Linked DNA regions of Homo sapiens: region 2 is linked to region 1. Evidence: fine-mapped expression QTL. A gene starts in region 1. The other region holds a variant in brackets. All regions are shown on one strand. Distances are between the middles of the regions. Region 1 holds the start of BST1 (bone marrow stromal cell antigen 1). Region 2 overlaps BST1 (bone marrow stromal cell antigen 1).

Evidence for each region.
Region 2: its variant is fine-mapped to the expression of BST1 in whole blood (INTERVAL, PIP above 0.99).

The regions. Positions count from the first base shown.
Region 1 is chr4:15,697,744-15,707,373 of GRCh38, forward strand. BST1 (bone marrow stromal cell antigen 1) reads left to right here and starts at 5,322. Exons shown (of 9, transcript NM_004334.3): 1 at 5,322-5,589; 2 at 7,772-7,898. The coding sequence starts at 5,402. RefSeq lists a silencer at 5,261-5,340.
Region 2 is chr4:15,732,343-15,741,972 of GRCh38, forward strand. BST1 (bone marrow stromal cell antigen 1) reads left to right here. Exons shown (of 9, transcript NM_004334.3): 9 at 1-445. Among named protein-coding and RNA genes, the nearest start is that of BST1, 34 kb to the left of the region's middle. The variant A/G (reference allele first, on the strand shown) is at 4,830.

The DNA of each region.
Region 1 (9,630 bases):
CTTTGGGAGGCTGAGGCGGGTGGATCACGAGATCGGGAGATCAAGACCATCCTGGCTAACATGGTGAATCCCCGTCTCTACTAAAAATACAAAAAAAATTAGCCAGGTGTGGTGGTGGGCGCCTGTAGTCCCAGCTACTTGGGAGGCTGAGGCGGGAGAATGGCATGAATCCAGGAGGCAGGGCTTGCAGTGAGCCGAGATCACGCCACTACACTCCAGCCTGGGCAACAGAGCGAGACTCTGTCTCAAAAAAAAAAAAAAAAAAAAAAAAAGGAATATTACTCTCTGGAAAAACGGACTGTCCAAGAGAAAATGACAGGTATCTCTTAGTGATAAAGTGCAGTATGTTCATCCTACAGGGCAGCCCACCCTTTGACAAACTCTGACCATTTGCCTTGAGCCTGCTTCTAATTAGTGCCTGATATGGTATGGCTGCGTCCCCAACCAAATCTCATCTTGAATTGTAGTTCCCACAATTCCCTCATGTCATATGAGGGACTCGGTGGGAGGTAATTGAATCATGGGGGTGGGTCTTTCCCATTCTCATAATAGTGAATAAGTTTCACAAGATCTGATGGTTTTATAAAGAGGAGTTCCCCTGCACAAGCTGTCTCTTGCCTACTGCCATGTAAGACGTGCCTGTTGCCTTCTGCCAAATTACCCAGTCTCAGGTATGTCTTTATCTGCAGTGCGACAATGAACTAATACTGTTCCTTATGTTTTTCTGTGTTTGTAAAAATAATCAGCCAAAGGTCATCAGTTTATTTGAGGGAAACTTCTCACATTAAAGCCAGTCACCAAAATGGAAATAAGGCACTCAAAGGAAACAGACATTGGCAGAAGAAAATTTAAAAGAAAAATGAAAAACCTACATCTGTAATAAAAGCCTCAGAAATATTCACAAAACAGCAAGAGAAGATTATAAAAAGCAAAAAGACCTGAACGTGTAGAACACAACTGTATATATAAGTATATATATATATATATATATATATATATATATATAGTATAAATTTAAAAAAGCAACAGAGAAGTTGGAAGATAATGATAAATTTATATTCAAGAAAGTATAAGAAGACAAAGAAAAAAGGTGAAAATATAGAAAATTAAAGACTAGGAAGTCTAACAAGGAAATCATTCCTATATGAGTAACAGGAATTTCAGAAAGAGAAAACAGAATTTGGAGGAGGGGAAATTACCAAAAAATTGAGAAAATATCTCAGTATTTAAAGACATGAGTTTGTAGGTTAAAAGGGCTCATGGATTGTCCAGTACAATGAAAAACAACTACTTTTGCCCAACTTCATCTCTGAAATTTCATACTCCTAAGAATAGAAGGAAATTCTGAAAATTTCCAGATAGAAAAAAAACAGGCCAAAGAATAAAAAACAAAACAAACAACAACAAAAAAGGTCAAATAAACAGGAATAGGAAAATGGGTTCAGATTTCTCAACAGCAACACAGAAAACAATGGAACACAGTCTTCAAAATTTTGAAGGGAAATGCTTTCCAATGCAAAAATGTACCCAACCAAATTCTCAATCAAGTGTGAGGTTAGAATAATGACACTTTGAATTCTTATGCAAAAATCTCAGACATCCAATCAAATTCTCAATTAAGTGTGAAGGTAGAATAATGACATTTTGAATTCTTATGCAAAAAATCTCAGAAAGTTTAGTCCCTGTGTATCTTCTCAAGAAGCTATTGGAAGATGTGCTCCATAAAACAAGAAAGAGGAGGATGTGAGATCTAGTTGTATTAGTTCGTTTTCATGCTGCTCATAAAGACACACCTGAAACTGGGAACAGAAAGAGGGTTAATTGGACTTACAGTTCTGCATGGCTGGGGAGGCCTCAGAATCATGGCATGAGGTGAAAGGCACTTCTTACATGGCAGCGGCAAGAGAAAAATGAGGAAGAAGCAAAAGTGGAAACACCTGATAAACCCATCAGATCTTGTGAGACTTATTCACTATCACCAGAATACCAGAATAGCATGGGAAAGACCGGCCCCCATGATTCAATTACTCCCACCCTGCCTCCCCACCCCCACCCCAACCTAGCTCTCTCCCACAACACGTGGGAATTCTGGGAGATACAATTCAAGTTGAGATTTGGGTGGGGACACAGCCAAACCATATCATTCCACCCCGGCCCCTCCAAATCTCACATCCTCACATTTCAAAACCAATCATGCCTTCTCAACAGACCCTCAAAGTCTTAACTTCAACATTAGCCCAAAAGTCCACAGTTCAAAGTTTCATCTGAGACAAGGCAAATGCCTTCTGCCTATGAGCCTGTAATATCAAAAGCAAGCTAGTTACTTTCTAGATAATGATTACCTCCAGGGTAAACAAGAGGTTTACAACAAATAAAATGTCATAATGTCCCAAACAGAATAATGTCCCAAACAGAAACATCAAGAAATAGCATATAGGTATTGTATTAGTCTGTTCTTGCATTGCTATAGATACCTGAAACTGCTCATTTATAAGAAAAAGAGGTTGAATTGGCTCACAGTTCTGCAGGCTGTAGGAAGCATAGTGGCTTCTGCATCTGGAGAGGCTTCAGGAAGTTTCCAAATGTGGTGGAAGGCAAAGGGGGAGCAATGGGTCTTACACGGTGGCAGCAGGGAGCAAGAGAGAGGGAGGAGGTGCTACACACTTCTTTTTTTTTTTTTTTTGAGACAGAGTCTCACTCTGTCACCAGGCTGGAGTGCAGTGGTGAGATCTCAGCTCACTGCAACCTCCGCCTCCCAGGTTCAAGCGATTCTTCTGCCTCAGCCTCCCGAAGAGCTGGGACTACAGGTGCGTGCCACCACGCCCAGCTAATTTTTGTATTTTTAGTATAGATGGGGTTTCACCATGTTGGCCAGGATGGTCTCGATCCGTGATTCCCAACACACCCCCCACACCAGCCTCCCAAACTGCTGTGATTACAGGTGTGAGCCACGGCGCCCTGCCAGTGCTACACAGTTTAAAACAACCAGATCTCACTTACTATCATGAGAATAGCAACAAGGGGATGGTGCTAGACTATTCTTGAGAAACCCACACCCATGATAAAATCACCTCCCACCAGGCCCCACCTCCAACGTTGGGGATTACAATTTCACATTAGATTTGGTGGGACGAGCCATGCCAGGGATGCCCCAAAATTACTAAACTAAAGGGAAAAGTCAGGCTGGGAACTGCTCAGGGCAAACTTGCCTCCCATTCTATTCAAAGTCATTCAGCTGCTCACTGAGATATATGCATATTCTGATGGCCTTCTTTGGAAAGGCTTATCAGAAACTCAAAAGAAGGCAACCATTTGTCTCTCACCTACCTGAGACCTGGAAGCCCCCTCCGTGCTTCGAGTTGTCCCCGCCTCTCTGGACAGAACCAATGTACTTCTTACATATATTGATTGATATCTCATGTCTCCCTAAAATGTATAAAACCAAGCTGTGCCCTGACCACCTTGGGTACATGTCGTCAGGACTTCCTGAGGTTGTGTCATGGACACGTGTCCTCAACCTTGCTAAAATAAACTTTCTAAATTAATTGAGACCTGTCTCAAAATTTGCGGGTTCACACATGTTATTTAGAAATATGGAAGTAAACACAGGAACAAAACTTGAAAGAATTAAAAATGCTTTCCTCTGGAAAGTGGATTTAACTTAAGGAGGAACTGAACAGGAGAATGCGGGTTTTGGTTACAGAAAAAAAGAGATTCAAATAAAACAGTAGAGAACACCTGTTCTGTCCTCCCTTGTGTTTATCAAGTGCTTGCCAGGCACTCAAAGTTCATTGCTGTCATTATTGTAAGAATTGAGGACTTGGGCCTCCACGTGGTATTCTATTAATACTGGCTCTTTTTTTTTTTTTTTTTGAGACGGAGTCTCACTCTGTTGCCCAGACTGGAGTGCAGTGGCCCGATCTCGGCTCACTGCGAGCTCTGCCTCCTGGGTTCACGCCGTTTTCCCGCCTCAGCCTCCCGAGTAGCTGGGACAACAGGCGCCCGCCACCGCGCCTGGCTAATCTTTTGTATTTTTAGTAGAGACGGGGTTTCACCGTGTTAGCAAGGATGGTCTCGATCTCTTGACCTCGTGATCCACCCGCCTCGGCCTCCCAAAGTGCTGGGATTACAGGTGTGAGCCACCGCGCCCGGCCAATCCTGGCTCTCTTAAACTGAACATCTCCAGGATTTTGCATCTATCAGGAAGGGATATTGTGACCTCTGACAAGTTACAGTCGGCGGTAGGTATCCATGGAGAATTGGTTCCAGGAACCTCCTGGATACCAAAATCCACAGATGCTCAAGGCCCTTATATTAAATGGTGTAGTATACAGTATTTGCACATCCTCTTCTATAATTCACGTCATCTCCAGATTCCTTGTAATATCAAGTACTATGTAATTGTTACATAAGTAGTTGTTACATTGGATTATTTAGGGAATGATGACAAGGAAAAAAAAGTCCGTACATGTTCCGTACAGATGCAAGCATTCTTTTTTTCCTCAAATGTTTCTCATCCGTGGTTAGCTGAATTTGGATGATGAATCCGCAAATCTGGAGGGCCGAACATGCTTAACTTCCCTGAGTTTATCCATTGCTAAAGCGAGAGAAATTACAAACTTAGCTAGGAAGGGTGTTGCGGAAAGTAATTAATATTATACTTGCAAAGTGCTTGGCACGTTGTTGTGGTTATTATTTCCTGAAAACAAACAAACACCACTTATTGGTTGGTGTGAAAGAGGGCATCTGTCAAAGTTGTCGTCCTTTGGAGCCAGAAAAGTATTTCTTCTGATGATGACTGACCTCTCCTCACCTCTCCTTCAACCTTGCGGCTTCTTTGGGGCTCCCTCCCCGTGGACAGCGGTCAAGATTAGCCTGGGCCACAGTGCACTGGTCCTGTCCTGGGTGATGTTCCAAGCTCACTCTTTTTTAATTTTATTTATTTATTAATTTTTTTTTTAGACAGAGTCTCACTCTGTCGCCCAGGGCTGGAGTGCAGTGGTGCAATCACTGCTCGCTGCAGCCTCGATCCCCTGGGGTCAAGCCTCCTCACATCTCACCTCGCAGGTAGCTGAGACTACAGATGCGCACCACCAGGACCAGCTAAGTTTTGTATTTTTTTGTAGAGAGGAGGTTTCTCACCTGTATGTTACTCAGGTTTGTCTCGAACTCCTATACTCAAGCGATCCGCCCGTCTAGGCCTCTCAAAGTGCTGGGATTACAGGCATGAGCCGCCGCGCCCCGCCCCACGCTCAGTCTTGAAATTGTCTGGAACGGGAAACGGCAAACAGCGAGATATCCGAGCGAGAGTCCCGCCCTGCATCAGTTTGCGGAACCGCCTTGGTAGAAGGAGAGAAGGGGAGTGGAGGAAGCACGGGACTGGAGGGACCAAAGTTCCCCGATGGCGGCCCAGGGGTGCGCGGCATCGCGGCTGCTCCAGCTGCTGCTGCAGCTTCTGCTTCTACTGTTGCTGCTGGCGGCGGGCGGGGCGCGCGCGCGGTGGCGCGGGGAGGGCACCAGCGCACACTTGCGGGACATCTTCCTGGGCCGCTGCGCCGAGTACCGCGCACTGCTGAGTCCCGAGCAGCGGTGAGGCAGTCGGCCGGGTGGAAGGGGAGCCGGAAAGAGGCAACGGTGGGGAGGGCCTGGGGAGGGGAAAACTGGCGCTAAAGTTCGGGGTGAGGGGGCAATGAGAGAGGCCTTGAGGGGAGAGGTGAGTGTGGAGACAGCGATGGTCCTGAACGATGGGGGCGAGTGAGGAGGGGGCTGTGAAGTGTGTCTGCAGGTGAGGGGTGCGCTGTGCGGGGTCTAGAGATGAGTGTGTGTGTGTGCGCGCACACACACACTGTAGAGGTGAGGGGTGTGTGCGTGTGTTCTAGAGGTGAGGGGGGTGTGTGTGTGCGCGCGCTCTAGAGGTGGGAGGTGTGTGTGTGCTCTAGAGGTGGATGTGTGTGTGTGTGCTCTAGAGGTGGGGGTGTGTGTGTGTGTGTGTGCTCTAGAGGTGAGGGGTGTGTGTGTGTGTTCTAAAGGTGAGATGTGTGTGTGTGTTCTAGAGGTAAGGGGTGTGTGTGTTCCAGAGGTGAGGTGTCTGTATGTGTGTTCTAGAGGTGAGGGGTGTGTGCATGTGTGTTCTAGAGGTGAAGGGGGTGTGTGTGCGTGCGCTCTAGAGGTGAGGGGTGTGTGTATTCTAGAGGTGAGGGGTGTGTGTGTTCTAGAAGTGAGGGGTGTGTGTGTTCTGGAGGTGAGATGTGTGTGTGTGTGTTCTAGAGGTGAGGGGTGCGTGCATGTGTTCTAGAGGTGTGTGTGTATCTGTGTTCTAGAGGTGAGGGGTGTGTGTGTGTAGTCTAGAGGTGACAGGTGTGTGTGTGTGGTCTATAGGTGAGGGATGTGTGTGTGGTCTAGAGGTGAGGGATGTGTGTGTGGTCTAGAGGTGAGGGGTGTGTGTGTTCTAGAGGTGAGGGGGTGTATGTGTATTCTAGAGCTGAGGAGAGTGTGTGTTCTAGAGATGAGGTGTGTATGTGTGTTCTAGAGGTGAGGGGTGTGTGTGTGTTCTGGAGTTGAGGGGTGTGTGTTCTAGAGGTGAGATGTGTGTGTTCTAGAGATGATGGGTGTGTGTGTTCTAGAAGTGAGAGGTGTGTGTGTTCTAGAGGTAAGGGATGTGTGTGTGTGTGTGTTCTAGAGGTGAGTTGTGTGTGTGTTCTAGAGGTGAGATGTGTGTGTGTTTGTTCTAGAGGTGAGGGGTGTGTGTGTGTAGTCTAGAGGTGACAGGTGTGTGTGTGTGGTCTATAGGTGAGGGATGTGTGTGTGGTCTAGAGGTGAGGGATGTGTGTGTGGTCTAGAGGTGAGAGGTGTGTGTGAGTGTGAAGGAGGGTGGAGAGGTATCCCTCTAGAAGTGAGGGTGGGGTAGAGGTGAACTGGGTAACAGCCCATTGCCACCCAGCAGATGTTTAGTCTGAATACTCAGAACCCAGAATGTGATCTCAGGTTGGAATTCCTTGAGTCCAGTCCTTCCAGAATTCAAATTTCAGATCCCCTAAATCTGGAGGATTTCTGAAGTTTGGGTCTTTCTTGCCAGTGCTGCATTTCTTACTGATTTTTGTTCCTTCTGTGGCCCCCCTTTTCTTATGTTTGTGATGTCTTTCTTGTGCTGATCATTTTTATTGTCGCACATTTCAGGCAAATAAGAAACAGCAGAGAACCACCTGTGTTACACACCACCCAGTATGAGAAACAAAGTTACAAATGCTATGGGAAATATTTTTTGAAAACTAGCATGGACCTCAAGAGGGGCTTGCACTGGAGGGTGCACCTGCTTTGCCAGAGGTGGAAGCCTTTTGCAGCATTGGGCCTCCCTCCTAACACTACACATCCTGCTGGCTGGCCTGGCCTCACCTGGTCCCCGAGCTCCACACTGGAACTGGACTATGAGACTGGCCCCACCGTTAGGTCTAAATGAAGAGGCACCTGCTGTATAGTTGACTGAATTTGTCACCTCCTGCTCGGTGCCATTTCTGCTTGTCTCCGTGAGCCTGGGGCAAGGCTGTATTCCTTAGCTCTGAGAAATCTGTGCAGTGCCTTCAGAGAGACAATTCCAGTGTCAGATTTCTGAATCTGTCACCTAAGCCATGACAATTCGTTGTCTTTTTTGTAAGCCTACTTCTGCAGTTACTATATGAAAAATCTCTTGTAAAGCTCTTAGACAAATGGGCATACTTCACAACACATTATGATGTGCATGTGTGTGTTCTTCCCAACTTGTACTTTTGCACAGGAACAAGAACTGCACAGCCATCTGGGAAGCCTTTAAAGTGGCGCTGGACAAGGATCCCTGCTCCGTGCTGCCCTCAGACTATGACCTTTTTATTAACTTGTCCAGGCACTCTATTCCCAGAGATAAGGTAACACCACAACCATCTTGGGTAAAACTGTGTTCTCTGTCTCTACAGAAATGGATGGTGCATGGGCCAGGTTGACATTAGCTGTCCCCTGCATCCTGCAATGTCACAGAAACATCAGGCAGCACACATAATGTGTGTGCTGAGCTCTCTGTGGGAAGCTAGCTTTGTTTCTGTATTAGTCCGTTGTCACATTGCTATAAAGAAATGCCTGAGACTGGGTAATTTACAAAGAAAAGAGGTTTAACTGGTTCACAGTTCCACAGGCTGTACAGGAAGAATGGCAACATCTACTTCTGGGAGGCCTCTGGGAGCTTTTACTTCAGCAGAAGGCAAAGTGGGAGCAGGTGTCTTACATGGCACGAGCAGGACCAAGGGCAGAGGGAGGTGCCACAGGCTTGTAAACAACTGGATCTTCTGAGAACTCCCTCAGGAGAACAGCAGCAAAGGGGGAAATCCACCCCCATAATCCAATCACCTCACACCAGGCCCCACCTCCAACATAGGGGATTACAATTTTACAAGAGACACAAATCCAAATCATATCAGTTTCCAATAGTGATTGTAGATCTCCCGCTGGTTGTGGGCAGAAGAAAATTTCCTAAGTTAGCAAGTTAGTGTGAGAATCAACATGAGGACATCAGGACATGGCCATACCTGTCACACTGGGCCTCCACATCTGGCCAGTTCTAAATAACCTTCATCCTAACTGGCCCAATGGCCTGAACCTTGAGTAATTCAGAAAACTCTCAATCTCAGTATCCTCCCGGGAGACCAGTCTCTCCATTTAACGGGTCTTAAGATTATATTTATTTAGTACCAGTTTATTTAAGAAAACCACATATCTATATTCTGTATACACTCTCAGGTCTAATAAAATGAAAATAATGAGAAAATTTCCATAAAACCCTTGCTTAAAACAATACCTCAAGTTTAAGGAATGCTAGACACCATTTTTGTTTCTGTGACATAAACATTGTTAACCTGATTTTTTCCATTGTGTGTTATTTGTAAAGGCAAGTAAATGGAACTGTGAGGTTCAAAGATAGAATAGACTGAAAACATGATTTTTGAGTATATGCTGTCTTTTGAACCTTGCTGCCCTCCTGTCACTAAAAGTGGGGAAGCTGACTTTTTAACCTTCTGTTTCATAGATTCGGTGCTAGTTGATGAACTCAGTAAATACTTCCGGGGCTATTTGTTTGCCAGTCATTGGTGCTAAGGGTTAAGGATGTAACAGTGAAAAACAGCCCTCACCCTTGGGGACCTTCTAGTCTAAATATAAACTGATTGGACTACTGAGGGTCAGATGAAATAGTGACTGGGGGATTTGTGTTATTGTTATATAAAAACACTATGGTGGAAACTATAAAGTATAATATAAAAGCAATGTGTTTTTGAGGCACTTGACACTTTAGGAAGTGCTTTTTGTGACTGCTTATTATCCTGGCCACAGCTCTGGAAGAAGAGAAAGGGCTCATGCTCTGCATTTTCCAGAAGTAGAAACTGAGAAACAGGGAGATTGCATGCCTTGCTCAAGATTACATATCTAATACATGACAGAGCCAGGATTCCAGCCCAGTTCCCTTGATCATTTTTAATGTAGGGGATCTTACCACATGCACGTATATTTAGTACTAGTGAGAAAATATTCCATTAACATTTGCATGATACCCTGGGAATAAAGGGAGGAGAGATGCTAGCAGTCTTTGAATGAATAAATAAAGACAACGAA
Region 2 (9,630 bases), 35 kb after region 1:
AGTTTCGCTCCTTTGCCCAGGCTGGAGTGAGGTGGGGAGATCTCAGCTCACTGCAACCTCTGCTTCCAGGATTCAAGCGATTCTCCTGCCTCAGCCTCCCAAGTAGCTGGGATTGCAGGTGCCTGCCACCATGTCCAGCTAATTTTTGTATTTTTAGTAGAGATGGGGTTTCACCATGTTGGCCAGGCTAGTCTCGAATTCCTGACCTCAGGTGATCCACCCACCTCAGCCTCCCAAAGTGCTAGGATTACAGGCGTGAGCCACCACATCCAGCCATAATAGTTACTTATAATGAGGGAAAAACCCAAAATATCCAGTAATATTTACATATTTACTGAAACTGTTTGGAACTTGTATTAGTTTGTTCTTGCATTGCTATAAAGAACTGCCCGAGACTGGGTAATTTACAAAAATAAAAATAAAAAAGAGGTTTAATTGACTCACAGTTCTGTGTCCAGAATTGTGACAAAATTGTGACAACCTCTGGGTTTTTGGTCTTGCTGACTTCAAGAATGAAGCCATGGACTTTTGCAGTGAGTGTTACAGCTCTTAAAGATGGTGTGTTCAGAGTTTGTTCCTTCAGATGTGTCTGGAGTTTCTTCCTTCTGGTGGGTTCGTGGTCTCGCTGACTTCAAGAATGAAGCTGCGGACCTTCGCGGCAAGTGTTACAGCTATTAAAGGTAGTGCGGACCCAAAGAGTGAGCAGCAGCAAGATTTATTGTGAAGAGCGAAAAAACAAAGCTTCCACAATGTGGAAGGGGACCCAAGCTGGTTGCCACTGCTGGCTCGGTGGCCAGCTTTTATTCCCTTATTTGGTCCCACCCACATCCTGCTGATTGGTCCATTTTACAGAGCGCTGATTGGTCCATTTTACAGAGTGCTGATTGATGCATTTACAATCCTTTAGCTAGACACAGAGTGCTGATTGGTGTGTTTACTATCCTTTAGCCGGACACAGAGTGCTGACTGGTGTGTTTTTACAGAGTGCTGACTGGTGCATTTACAATCCTTTAGCTAGACACAGAGTGCTGATTGGTGCGTTTACAATCCTTTAGCTGGACACAGAGTGCTGACTGGTGTGTTTTTACAGAGTGCTGACTGGTGCATTTACAATCCTTTAGCTAGACACAGAGTGCTGATCGGTGCATTTACAATCCTTTAGCTAGACAGAAAAGCTCTCCAAGTCCCCTCTCGACCTAGGAAGTCCAGCTGGCTTCACCTCTCTGTTCCACAGGCTTACAGGAAGCATGGCTGGGGAGGCCTCAGGAAACTTACGATCATCATGGAAGGCAAAAGGGAAGCAGTCATGTCTTACATGGCCAGAGAAGGAGGAAGGGAGTGAAGGGGGAGGTGCTACATGCTTTCAAACCACCAGATCTCGTGAGAACTCTGTCATGAGACAGCACTAGGTGATGGTGCTAAACCATCCGAAACCACCTCCGTGATCCAATCACCTCCCACCAGACCCCACCTTCAACACTGGGGATCACAATTCAATATGAAATTTAGGTGGGGATACAGAGCCAAACCATATCAGAACTATTTACATGGGTTTTAGAATATTTGTAGAATGGAGTATCATTCAACAAGTAAAAGCCATGTTTACCAATTCACATGTCCTTCAGATGGTGAAGGAATAAACTAACTGGTAAATCTACACCATGGAATACTACTCAGCAATAAAGGTAACTACCTTGATATATGCAGCAATATGGATGAAACCCAAATGTGAGAGCTGCCGCACCAAAAGGCCACCAACTGTATGATTCTATTTATATGACATCCTCGAGAAGGCAGAACTATAGTAGCGGAGAGCAGACCAGTGATTGTGGGGGTTGAGAATGATCAGGACTAGAAGGAGGCGCTGACTGCAAAGTGACACTGAGAAAAATTTTGGGAGCGATGGAGCTGCTCTGTGTCTTGATTGTGGTGGTGATTGCATGAATCCAAGTGTTCGTCAACACTCATGGCCCTGTACATGAAAAAGAGTAAATTTTATTTTATGTAAACCAAAAAGAAATGTTTTCAAAGAACATTTAATCACATAGGAAAATGTGTAAGAGATAAAATATAAAACTTAATTATATGATGAAAATGTCTAAAGTATGATACAAATTTAATATATTAAAATATAATATATATACGGGAAATCATTCTCAAAATTGTCTCCTCCACCAGTCGACTAAACTTAGGGGTTTACATAGCAGGAAGGAAATGTAACTATATGTGAGAAAACAGGAATGGGGGAGGGGTAAGGAAGAGAAGCTGCTAAACAGGAGTCATGATGGATGAAGGGTCTGGCATCTAATTGTGTGGATGTGGTGGTCTGGTGAGTTTCGGTTCCTTGATACTAACTGGTTGCCTAAGGGTCAGTTTCCTGAAGAAGGAATTCAGATAAGACAAATGTAAGTTTCAATCTTAGATGAGAGGGTCAATTTTCATGTTTATCCAAAAAACAGTAGACATCACTTCTCTGGGACAGCTGGGCTGGTTTCAGTCGGACACTGCCACAGGGAGCAGGCAGGAGCGGGAACCAGGCCACGCTCAGAAGGGTTAAGGAAAGAGACTTTGGGAAGTGAGACTGCAGAGGAATGAAATCCATGAAAACCTGGCATGGTAGAATGTTCATTTGGTGTAGACACTGGTGTGTATTGTAAAAGCGGTATTAGCTTCTTACAGAAGGTGTGCTCAGCTGGGCTCCTCTAACCAAGTTGCTTGGTGCTCTACCCAGACGTGCTCTCTACTCTCTCCCTCCTCAGGGTCTTTGAACATGTTGGTCTCTCTGTGTTGATTTTCCTTCCTGCCCTGTCTCCCATCTGGCAGACTCTAAGACATACCTTAAGCATCACCTCCTCCCTGGATCCTTCTGTTGACCTCTCTCCCTGCAAAAAAGCAAAGAATTCCCTAACAGGGCCCATCTTCATGGTGTCAGCATTGTTTGGGTCCTTGCCTAACTTCACCCTGGGACTGTGGCTTCTTTGCAGACTCACTCATCTTTGCAGCCCTAGCCTAGCCCTGCTTGGATGAAGTAGACCTTCCACGTGTGAATGAACTAAGTTTAATAGAGGAAAACAGAGGGTGGGGGATTCTTTAGCTTTCTTTTGTTGGAGGAGGCCAGGGAGGGTACAAGGGAAGCTTAATAACAAGGTGTGGCATGCTTTTCTGTATTTATGGCATACTTTCATAAAACACTTGAAGTGTGTGATATTGCTAGGGTGTGTGAGGGGAGCCGTGAGGGAAGATGACAAGCAGCATAAGACTTTTGGGTACTTAGAGAAAGAGAAAAGGACCCAACCAACCAACTTCCAATTCATAATTCATGGTTTGTCTCAGGACCGTCTGGCTCCTTAGGCCAATCCCATGGGAGCCCCAGCCAAGGGGCGTCTCTTAGACCAAGCTTGGAAAACACAGTGTCTGCTGCCTTCATGTTGCCTGGGTTACCAGGCGACTTAGCCACTCACAGCACAGTGACCTGCGACTCAATTAGAGAAATGCCATTTTGAGTTCCATAAGAAAAATAAGGCTTTATTTTTAAAAACTAAACATAACTTCACTTTTTTCCCGAATATAAGAGTAATAATGGCTCTTTACTTGAAAAAAATCTACACAATACAGAAAAATTAGGAAGAAGGCAAATCTCATCTGTCATACTGCACGCAGAGTAGCAGACATTTTTCTATGTGTTTTTATGCACATATTTATATTTATAGACCCAAGAGGCTATGTGGGACATTAGGAGTGCGACCCAGAGCAGAACCATACAACCGCCGGTTCTAGCCTTTGTACAAGGTAAATCATGGGTTTCAAACATATCATTGCCTCCTGACTGATCTCTCTGCTTCTGCTTGGTTTCTCCTTCAGCCTAACTTCCACAATGCTGCCAGAGCAATGTCCTACGCTAGGGTCCTGAGTGCATCGTCCTCTTGCTCAAAATCAGCAATGGTTTCCTACCCTTGGCAAGACAAATTTCAAATTTTAAAATCTGCTCTTCAAGAAGCCGGGCGCAGTGGCTCCTGCCTATAATTCCAGCACTTTGTGAGGCCAAGGTGGGCAGATCACTTGAGGTCAGGAGCCCTGGACAACATGGTGAAACCCTGTATGTACTAAAAATACAAAAATTAGCTGGGCGTGGTGGCACGTGCCTGTAATCCCAGGTACTCTGAAGGTTGAGGCAGGAGAACTGCTTGAACCAAGGACACAGAGGTTGCAGTGAGCCTAGATTGCTCCACTGCACTCCAGCCTGGGTGATAGAGTGAGACTCTGTCTCCAAAAAAAAAAAAAAATCTGCGATTCAAGATCTTTCCATTTGCCCCTAAACTGCCTTACTAGGTCTGTGTCCCAGGAGACCCCACTGCACTCTCCATGAACCTTCTCTCAGTTCCGTATTCTCAACATAAGCCTTTGGATCTGGTACCTTTGCTCACCTCCTCCTCGAAGCCTTACTTAGTTCCAGATCCATTTGTTTTTATGTCTCTCTCTCTTGAGGACAGCAACTTTACCTCTTTGTCTTTGTGTCTGTCATAATGCTTTACCCTGACCAGCCATGACCTAGTCAGCATTTGATCAGATTGGGTGAGAACCTTGGGTTTGGGGAATCAAGACAAAGGAAATGGGGAGGCAGCCTAACATTGTGGCCAAGAGCATGGACTCTGGCACCTAACAGGTTGGCCCACATCCTACCTTCAGCACTTGCTCGCTGTGTAGCCTTGGGCAACTCACTTACCTTACCTGAGCTGCATCACCGTGTGTGTAAGTAGGGATTATAAGTACTCATAATTCAATGAGCGAATGTGCATAAAGAACCCAGAACAGTGCCAGGAGTATAGTAG[A/G]TCAGCCCTGTATAAGTGTTATTTGCTAGTGTTATTGTTACTACTACTAGAGTTGTTTGATAGCTGTCTAAACACCATCTGCAATACAGCACTCTCTGCAGATCAGAAGTTACTGTGCACTGGGCACTGTGTGAAGTATTTTCATAAATGGCCCCTTTCAATCCTCACTCGACCCCATAGGATCAATTCTCTTATTATCCTATTTTACAGATGAGAAAACATAGACATAGAAAGCTTTTCTTACTTGGCCAAGGTCACCTCTCTTGGCCTCGGTTCCTCCATGGTCTGGGCAGCAAGGGGGCAGCAGGGAGCCCTGGCAAAAGCAGCTAAGAAAACCAGCCTCGTGTGTCTTCAACAAACAGGTCCCAGCACCAGCTCCATGCCTGGCACACTTAATGGGTACTTAATGCTCTTCTACCAAGTGAATGAACAATGCTAAGCATTTGACCAAAAGAGAAATGCACATGGAAGACCCCTGAGCACAAGGACTGGGTGGGCACATGAAGAACTGAGTTCTCTTTCCTCTCCTGTCGTAGGTACCAGGTACCTTACACTTGGCTGTATTCCCTCTAGCACGATAGACTTGGTAACAAGGTACTTTCTGAACCTGAACAGGAAACTGTGGGAACCATGATGGGGAAGATACTGACTGTCAGAGAGTCCAAAGATGTAAATGCCTTCCACTCCCACAGCAAGGAAGCCGAAATCTCCAGAGGCTCTGGCAAGAGTTGAGTCAATTGCATGCCTGCCTAGTCCAGCTCCGTCCACATGAATGCTCTCCACAAGCTTCAGAGGAAACAGGATAAAATGGACTCCCAAATATTTAGGGTGGTGAAAATACTCTGCATGATACTAGAATTGTGGATACAGGTGATTATATATGTGTCCAAACCTACAGAAGGTACAACACCAAGGGTGAACCCTCAGGTAAACTACAGAGGCTGGGTGACCATGATGTTTCAATGTCGGTTCATTAGTTGTGACAAATGCACCACTCCACCACTCTGGTGGGGATGCTGCCAGTGGGGGAGGCTATGTATGTGTGGGGACAGAGCGTATGTGGGAAGCTCTGTACTTTCTGCTCAAATTTGCTGTGAACCTAAAACTGCTCTAAACATTAAAGCCTATTCAAAAAAATGAAAGCCTAATTTGAAAAGGAATTTCAGACACTTGGGAAAAAGAATAATGACGTCTATAAGTCATTCTTTGATAAGAGAGTCGGTCAGTCTGGTGTGTCTAGTAAGGTAGCAGAGGGACATTCACAAAGACCGGAGAATACAAAGATGTTAAACAGGGTGAGGAGTCTATGATGTTGGTCAGTATAAAAGGAGAAAAAGATCCTAAAAACATTCCTAAATATTGTTTGATTTAAAAATATATGTTGGAAGGCAAGAGAGTTTGATAAAAAAATAAAAATAAAAATAAAAAACCTTGATGGGAAGTGGGAATGACCACACGTTAGCCAGCTGATAGCTTACCTGTTTGAAGTTCAGCTTCCACACGATTGTTACAGACGGAACTGTGTTCCCTCAAATTCATAGTTCGTTATGGCCACCCTGGTAAGCTAACACAACAATGAAAATTTCCAAAGTAAAGACTAGAAGCAGGCATGTGCCAAGTGAACACTAGCTTTTTTTATTTCTCCTGCTGTGAAAATTGAGGTTTGCCAAAGGTGCCAAATGAACATGGCTGATTGAGAAGTAATCCCAGTTCCACTAACCTGAGAGACAGCCCAGGCAAGCGGACCTAGCTCCTAATGCTCATTTCCATTTCAGTCTTTCTGAAGTTTCCCAGGGTGAGAAAGTGGAACTCAGGACAATGAATCATCATTGGAGACTCTGCAGTTGCTAGAACTTAATTCACAGGCATTTGAAACCCAGAACTCAGCCTTACTCTTCTCAGGAGACTTTTGGCACCAAAGAGAAGGGCAAATTGAAAGCCCATGCTGGAGAACAGGGCACAGCTATTGCTGAGACTGGGAGCTTGTTTTTAAAGACCTGGCAAGGGTTTCAAACACCCACATGCATAACCAATGAAGCAGGTTGGAAAATCTGAACTATGCTAATTTCACCATAATTACTCATTACTTGAAGTCTTATGTATTTGTGTTTTCTTGGTAGTCTCTTTAAAACATGTTTCAATATGAAACGTATATGTATTAAATCACTCCGCTTAGAATTTTAGGAATATAGTTTTGTTTTTCCCCCTAAAAGATGTAGAATGCAGCAGGTTCTCTAAAGCACATGTATTCTTTGTTACGTGATTTGGTTCTTTGGAACTTCTTTTATCATGTAGCTATTAAAGGGTAGCTGTCAGAATTACCCAAACTCTTCACTGAAATGACTTACTTATTTGAGAAAAATGCATGTTAAGAAGCCAAACCGTGTGTGTGTGTGTGTGTGTGTGTGTGTGTGTGTGTGTGTATTTCTCCCCTGCACAAAAGTAGAAGGGTTTTCATTTGACTTGTGCCAGCTGCACCTTCATGACTTTGCTATAGGACATGTGACACAGTAACTCTAAGATGGTGCTTGTAAAATTTTAAAATAGTTAACATACAGTGACAAGCTCTCAGGGGAACACATTAAACTCGATTAAATTTTGTAGGGTAAAAAGATGTGTACAGAAATATAATCAGAGTGAAGTCATTGTTCACCATTGCTGCTAGTAATAAAATTTGGTGGTAGGAGGGGGAAGGAGAAAGGGAGGGAGGGAAGTCGGTGAGAGAGAGAAAAGGAGAGGGAGACATTGACAGAGAGAGAGACAGACAGACAGAGAAACAGAGAGAGACAGAGAAAGAGAGGGAAGAAGGGAGAGAGAGAGAGATAAGGATAGAGAGAGACAGGGAGAGAGTGTATCTCCTGATCCTCACTGGCTGATAACTAAATTAGTTGGGGGCAGGGGGGACTGAATCTCGTTCTGTCACCGAGGCTGGAGTGCAGTGGCACCGTCTCGTCTCACTGCAACGTCTGCCTCCCAGGTTCAAGTGATTCTCATGCCTCGGCCTCCCTAGCAGCTGGGACTACAGGCACACGCCACTATGCCTGGCTAATTTTTTGTATTCTTTTTGCTAGAGACGGGGTTTTGCCATGTTGACCAGGCTGGTCTCAAACTTCTAACCACAGTGATCTGCCCGCCTTGGGTTCCCAAAGTGCTAGGATTATAGGCATGAGCCACCATGTCGGGCCTAAATTAGTAGTTATTATCTACTTTCATTTGTGGGATGAAGATGAAACAGAGTCCTTTGGGATTGTGCACTGGGGGAAACCTAACATAGTCTAGTATCGGGAGAGGAGGCTTTCCAGAGAAAGTCTTCCTTAAGTTGAACCTGAAAAAACGAGAGCTATTAGCCAGATGAGAGGTGAAGGTGTGAGGGGGTGGATTGGAAATATTTTCAGGTAGGGAGACTAATCTATACAAAGGTTTATGTTCTCAACTACTGAGTTTGTCTTCAGCATTTGCACCTTATTTAACAAATTTATTAATTTGTTAAATTATAACAAATATTTGACAGCAGAGCTGAGGATATTAAAATAAAATGTAATTTTATTTCTTATATGTTGGTGAAGAAGGAGCAGCAACAGAGGCTGGAGCATTATTTACAAGCCAAACTATCCGTCTGGAGATTCCCAGTGCAGCAACTGGGACGGGGACTACTGAATCCCTCAGATTTTAGGCCATAGGCCAATGAACATTTTCTGTAAAAGGTGAAGTAATACTTTTAGCTTTGCTGGCCATGCAACCTCTGTCGCAACTACTCAACTCCGTGGTTCGTGAGGGGTCCACAGGGTTCATTATCCGTCATGAACCGCAGAGTTGAGTAGTTGTGACAGAGGTTGCATATATTTACTCAGCCAATATTTACTGATGATATTGATTAGGAGTCTTGGGAAGAGCAGTGACAGTTTTTTTGGTATTATATCTAGCGACAAAAGATTGAATTTGGCCGTTACTCACTCCTCCTCCAACAAAGTTGTCAAACGGGGCTGCTACAGACAAGTAGAATCACAGATTGGAGATCAGCTGTCATTATGTAACAGCTGGATTGGCAGGCTTCCCTCTAGGGGCCATCCCTGTCTACAGCTAGAGTGGACAGGCCAGGGAGGACACCATACTTGGAGTAGAGTAACCTTGTCCAGGAGTAAAACATGGCCCGAGAATTCTGTGCTCCTAGCAATCCTATTATTATAGAAGTGCTTCCTGATAAGGGAGGAAGGGTAGGAAGAGGAAAGCTGAGGCAGATGGATGGGGAAAGTACTGAAACATTCTGTTCACATCCTCAATAACCTTCATGAAAAATCAGTCATAGATGCTGGAATCTCCAAACCTCCAAGGGGCTTACAACATTGTGTGCAGGGAAACCTCTAATTCACAGCCTTATTGAGAGCATGTGTCAATGGCCCATAGCAGGGGCCCATTCTGGCTTTTGTACAACCCCAAAGACACACGTGGGTTTTCCATTTTTAAATGGTTGAAAAAAATCAAAAGAAGAACATTATTTCATGGCGTCTGAAAACTACATGAAGCTCAAATTTTAGTGTATAAAGTTTTACTGGAACTCAGCCATGCTCATTAGTTTGTGCTTATCTATTCCGCTTCTGAGCTATTGCAGAGTTGAGCAGTGGCAACAGAGGTTGCATGGCCCGCAAAGCGAAAAGTATTATCTCACCTTTTACAGTAAATGTTCATTGGCTTATGGCCTAAAGTCTGAGGGATTCAGTAGTCCCTGTCCCAGTTGCTGCTCTGGGAATCTCCAGATGCATAATATGGTTGGTGCATAACGCCCCGGTCTCTGTTGCTGCTG